Linked DNA regions of Homo sapiens: region 1 is linked to region 2. The links come from fine-mapping of genetic effects on gene expression. Tissue or cell type: whole blood. Region 2 holds a variant in brackets; the other region holds the start of a gene. All regions are shown on one strand. Distances are from middle to middle.

What was found. PIP is the estimated chance that this variant, and not a neighbour inherited with it, causes the effect.
Region 1: DAP starts here. The variant in region 2 is fine-mapped to the expression of DAP in whole blood (INTERVAL, PIP above 0.99).

The regions. Positions count from the first base shown.
Region 1 is chr5:10,759,864-10,762,544 of GRCh38, forward strand. DAP (death associated protein) reads right to left here and starts at 1,371. Exons shown (of 4, transcript NM_004394.3): 1 at 1,151-1,371. The coding sequence starts at 1,205. It overlaps DAP-DT (DAP divergent transcript), which reads left to right and starts at 1,173. Exons shown (of 3, transcript NR_187555.1): 1 at 1,173-1,353. RefSeq lists silencers at 927-1,356, 1,437-1,906 and an enhancer at 1,429-2,274.
Region 2 is chr5:10,690,065-10,692,745 of GRCh38, forward strand. The region is part of intron 2 of DAP (death associated protein); the gene reads right to left. Among named protein-coding and RNA genes, the nearest start is that of DAP-DT, 70 kb to the right of the region's middle. The variant A/G (reference allele first, on the strand shown) is at 1,567.

The DNA.
Region 1 (2,681 bases), 70 kb after region 2:
CCTGCCTCGGCCTCCTGAATAGCTGGGATTACAGGCGCCCGCCACCATGCCCAGCTAATTTTTCTACTTTTAGTAGAGATGGGGTTTCACCATGTTATCCAGGCTAGTCTTGAACTCCTGACCTCAAGTGATCCACCCTCCTTGGCCTCCCAAACTGCTGGGGTTACAGGCATGAGCCACCGCGCCTGGCCAGGAATCTTTATTGTCAAGAAAATGGCGCAAATGTGCCACCAAAAGAAGCCATGTTTCTCAAAGACTTCTGTTCCTACAAGACTGAGTTTATGACACTAAGGCGTGCTATTAAGACCTAAAAGAACCTCACGCATCCATACATTGAAGTGACTTGGCTTCTGAGACCCAAGGCCTTTGATCTTCTCACCAGTGTCCCTCCATATGGGCCGACTGCCACTGGAAAGGAGAGTAGAAACGGAAACAGACCCGTCTGGACAGAATCCAAAGTGCAAACAGGAACTGTGCCCAGAGAGAGGAGGAGGTGGCAGAAGCATGAAGGCTGCTTAGATCCCTATGTTCTAAGAAAGACCGCTCTTTCCTGGCTTTAACTTCCTTGGCTCAGAAGTTTAGGATTTGCTCAAAATCAGAAAAAGCAACTTTGGGGGAAAAAAAAAATCTGGATGTGGAAGAAACTGGCGGTGAAAGTCATATTGAGTGATTAATGATAAAAATTATTTCCGCTCCTTGGTTCTTGAGTCGGTATGAAACGCTGGCAGCCTCTAATTAATCATCACCATGATATTAACACCACTGACTTTTCATTGCTTCTGCTACTTTCTTTCTAGACATCTGTATCCTCTAAGTAAATATTATCCGCCAAAACTTTGTTATAAGTTGTGCAACTGGGTTCGCCCAAGGCACCGGAGCCTGCGCGCAATCGCACAGGTACGCGGCCGCCCGCGGTCCTCAGGAAGAAACGCTTCGCCGCCGCCGGCAAGCGGGGCCGAAGCTCCGGCGGGCTCCTCCCGGGCCTGGGCGCCCGACCTCTCCGCGGCCCGCGCCCCTCGGGCGGGCATCAAGGCCCGGAACCCGTCTCAGCGCTCGCCGGGGCCCTCCCCGCGGAGCCCCCGCCCGGCGCCCCCGGGTTCGAGCCCGCCCCCGGCACCCGCGCGTGGAGAGAGAGGAAAAGAGTCAGTACCGGCGGGCGGGTGTCCAGCTTTAGTCTCTAGTTTCCCTTCGGGAGGCGAAGACATGACGCGGCGGGGCTTCCGCGGGGCCGAGGCGGCGGCGCGGTTCTCGGGCCGGGCGGGCGTGCGCGAGTGAGCTCAGGTGTGAGCGCCGGGGAGCGAGCGGGCGGGAGAACGACGCGCGCGCGTGGGGCGCCGGGGCCGCGCGAGCCGGGTGAGTGCCACTGCCGTTAAGGGGGCGCGGCCGCCGCGCGCCGACGTGGCGCAGCCGAGCCCACCGACGGCATGCGCACTGACGTCACCGCGGCCCGCCCGCCCTGCTGGGCCGCGAGCCAAGCATACGGTGCGTGCGCAGCCGGCCGCGCCACGTCGGATGCTGTGGCCGGGGGCGGGGGCGGGGGCGGGGGCGGGGGCGGAGGAGGGAGGGGAGAGAAGGGGTGAAGAAGTGAGAGGGAGAAGGAAGGAGAGGGAGGCGGGGTCCCCGACTGGCTGCGGGGACTGGAGTTGCGGAAAGTTAAGTAGGGCCCAGCTGAGGATGGCTCCTGCAGCGAACGCGCTCAGCCGGGCTCCTGGCTACGCGGCGACGGCTGGGTGACTGCGCCCCACAGTGCGGGCCAGGGCCGGGGCGTCCCGGCAGGGAGGCGACCGTCCCCTGAGGCCCTCAGCCCCTGCCGCGGCAGCGCCTAATGAAGCGCGGAAAGGAGAGCCCAGATGGCAGCGACGGGGGCCGAGAGAGCAGGAATTTGTTAAAAGACGATGCGAGGGGAGAGCCTGCTTTCCGAGTGAGGGCCAGCGCTGGGGAGCAGAGACGGTGGCTTCTGTCCCTGCCCTCCTCGTTATGAACCAAAAATAAAATTCTAAGCCCTGCAGCCAACGGATGGACCCTCCCCTCCGCCTGTGGCCTTCTAAGTTATCTTGAAAAACTAGTTCAGGCCTTGATGGGAAGCGGAAGTCAAACATGGCCTCACAAACATCCGCACGGAGACCCTAAGACTAATAGAGGACTCTGATAAGAAACATTTGCAGTGTATTCCCGGCTTCATCTGCATGATAACACCTTGGTCTCCACAACTCCTTCATGCAACCCGGACATTCCCTTCTACTGAGTCCAGGTCTTTAGATGATAACTCTCAACCAGTTGCCAATCAGAAAACCTTTAAATGTACCTATGACCCGGACGCCTCCACTTCACATTTTACCTCCTAAAGAGCCAACCTACATCTTACGTATTGATTGATGTCTCATGTCTCCCTCAAATGTATAAAACCAAGATGTTTCCTGGCCACCCTGGGCACATGTCATCAGAACCTCCTGAGGTTGTGTCAATGCACGTCCTTAACCTTGGCAAAATAAACTTCCTAAATTGAGACCACTCTCAGAAACTTTTGGTTTTCACCATCATCTTCCTGTTGCCGTGGCTGACCCCTGGCTCTCGTGCCTTGGATCGTGTTCTTCCCGCCTGCCCCAGTGTTTTGCAACTGCTGTTAACTTCCGCAATGCCTTGCTGGATTCGCATTCAGACAGGCCTAATCTCTTTAGCGA
Region 2 (2,681 bases):
CCATGTGTCCAGCACTTCCGCAGGCGAGGTCCTTGCTTTAAGACTGCACTTTTTACACAATATTCAAGAATTGTGTTGCATGAGAAAGTCTTATCGAGCCGCAAGAGGCGACTCGGCGGGAAGTGACAGGACACCAGACTGAGGGTCTCCTTTAGCTCTGGTCTGCTCAAGGCAAACGTTCTTCCTAAAGACAGTCCAAGCTCTCCCTCCCTTCTAACTTCGCTTTGAAACCCCAGCCAGCTCAGCAACTAATTACAAAAAAATTATGTACCATTTTAGCCATTTTTAAGTATACAGTTCAGTGGCATTAAGTATATTCATATTATTATGCTATCATCACCTTTATCTATTTCCAGAACTTTTTCATCATTCCCAACAGAAAGTCTGTCCCCATTAAACACTAGCTCCCCATTCTCTCCTCCTCCCAGCCCCTGGCCATCACCGTGAGTTTAACTGCCCTAGGGATCTCATGTAAGTGGAATCATACAGTACTTGTCTTTTTGTGTCTGGCTTATTCCATCTAGCATAATATTGTCAAGGTTCATTTATGTTGCAGAATGTGTGGGAATTCTTTTTTGAGGCTGAATAACATTCCACTGTACAGACAGACCACATTCTGCTTATCCATTCATCTGCTGATGGACACCTGGACTGCTGCGAATGGTGCAGCTATGGACGTGGGTGTATAAATATGTGCTCGAGTTTCTACTTTCAATTATTTTGTGTGTAACTCAGAAGTGGAATTGCTGGGTTATATGGTAATTCTGTGTTTAACTTTCTGAGGAATCACCAACCTGTTTTCCACAGCGGCTGTTCCATTTTAGATTCCCACCAGCAACGCACATGGGTTCCTATTTCCCCATATCCCTGCCAACGCTCGTTGTTTTCTGTTTTGTTTTATTCTGTTTTTTTGGATAAAGGCTCTATTCTAATGGGTGTGAGGAAGTATCGTACTGTGGTTTAGATTTAGCAACTAATTTTAAGAATAAGCTTCCCTGCCACAGAATAATAAATATCAATCTGTATTGATCATTCATTAAAGGTCTTTATGAACCAAAAGTCGCCCCCAAAATTCTTCTCTAAAACTGAAAAGGCCATAATTGGCTGTAAGGACATATGGCAGCTGCCCATGAAAAGATGGCAAAAGGCAGGCCTCTTCCAAAATGTCTAACAGCGATATGTATTTTCATGTAACTTGTCCCGTGACAGAGCGTATGTTGTGTTGAAGGTTTTCATCAAGTTTGGCCCAAAGGCTTCAGAGCCCAATCCTTTTTTCCAACTATAATTAACAGCAACTTAAATTGGCAAATAATTATTTATGACGTTTATAAAGTAAAAACAGTTACTAAACTCTTTGAGATGTGGTAGCTTGAACAAAATCTCACAAGCGAGAAACCCCAGTCAAAGGTCTGGGTGTAAGGCTGTACATGCAAAACACACCTATTTTAAATGCCATTAGGCTTCCATGCAAAGTATAACCTACATTTCTCAAGTCTAAGAAGTATGATAGCTGCTTTGAGGATTTATTTAATCTGATGAAAATCATTCTGACAGATGCTGTTTTGA[A/G]GATGCAACATTATTTTCTCTCAGGAAACAGAGAGTGAAAACTATCAACCCTGCCCGCCCCATATCCTCAGGCCTTTCCAGACTTTAAAAACTACACTTATTTAAATTGAAAAGAACTGCAAGCCAGGCAGAATTAGCCAGGATTAGAATCCAGATAACACTTCCTATACACTAGCAGAAACTGCAGCTTTTTCACACCCAGACTAAGCAGCCACCTGATGTCCGTGCACGTGGGTCTCTATTGTCCATCTGGCAAGGACCACATCAAACTCTTAAAAGGACCCTTTGTCCTTAACAAAAGTTTGCTATTACTTATTTTCTAAATTTTCTTAATGAAGATTTATACCTTATTGGCATTCTGTGGAAACTGCAGACAGACAGGATAAAATGCCAGAAACGCTCAGTGACTGAGTAACCCTGTGGAATGCAGATATCATCAAGACTGAGTTTGATGGTCTCATCTTTAAAGGAATGTGGAAAGGGCTGAGAAACCCAAATTCATAGTTTTAAAACTTCCCTAAACTCCCAAACAGCAACTATTTAACTCAATATATTCAAGTTACTGCTACCCCAACATGTAACTCATATAAAAATTGAGAAGACTTTTAACATTCTTTTGTGTTCTAAGGCTTTACACCCTCCCTCATCATCGTGGTGCTCTGACAGCCTGGTTTCTGCCCCAGTTCTGAGAGGTGTAAAGCGATGCACTCTTGTGAGTTAGAGCTGGACAGGAGGTTCCCTACCAGGCAGACGGCTGCTGCAATCTATACCTTCATCCTTTCGCAGTTGAGAGCTTAAGGGCCTTCAGTGGGGGCCGCCTGGATGTCTCCCAGGTGGGCCGGATTCTGTCTCCCTGCACTTAGTCCAGCGCCCATCCCAAGTCTAACGCTCTTCCACAGGACAGTCCTTTGGTATTTGAAGAAGGCTACCACAAGCCCCCAGAACATCCCTTTCCCAGACTCAAAGGCATGATTTCAAATTCCTTCACTCTCTCAGCTATTCTCCCAACTGCATTCCAGTGCGGTTTCTAGAGTTTTGCCTAGAACTGTACGCGACACCCCACATGTACCTACTCAGTCCCCACAGGACACCGATATTGCAATAATACTTTCCCC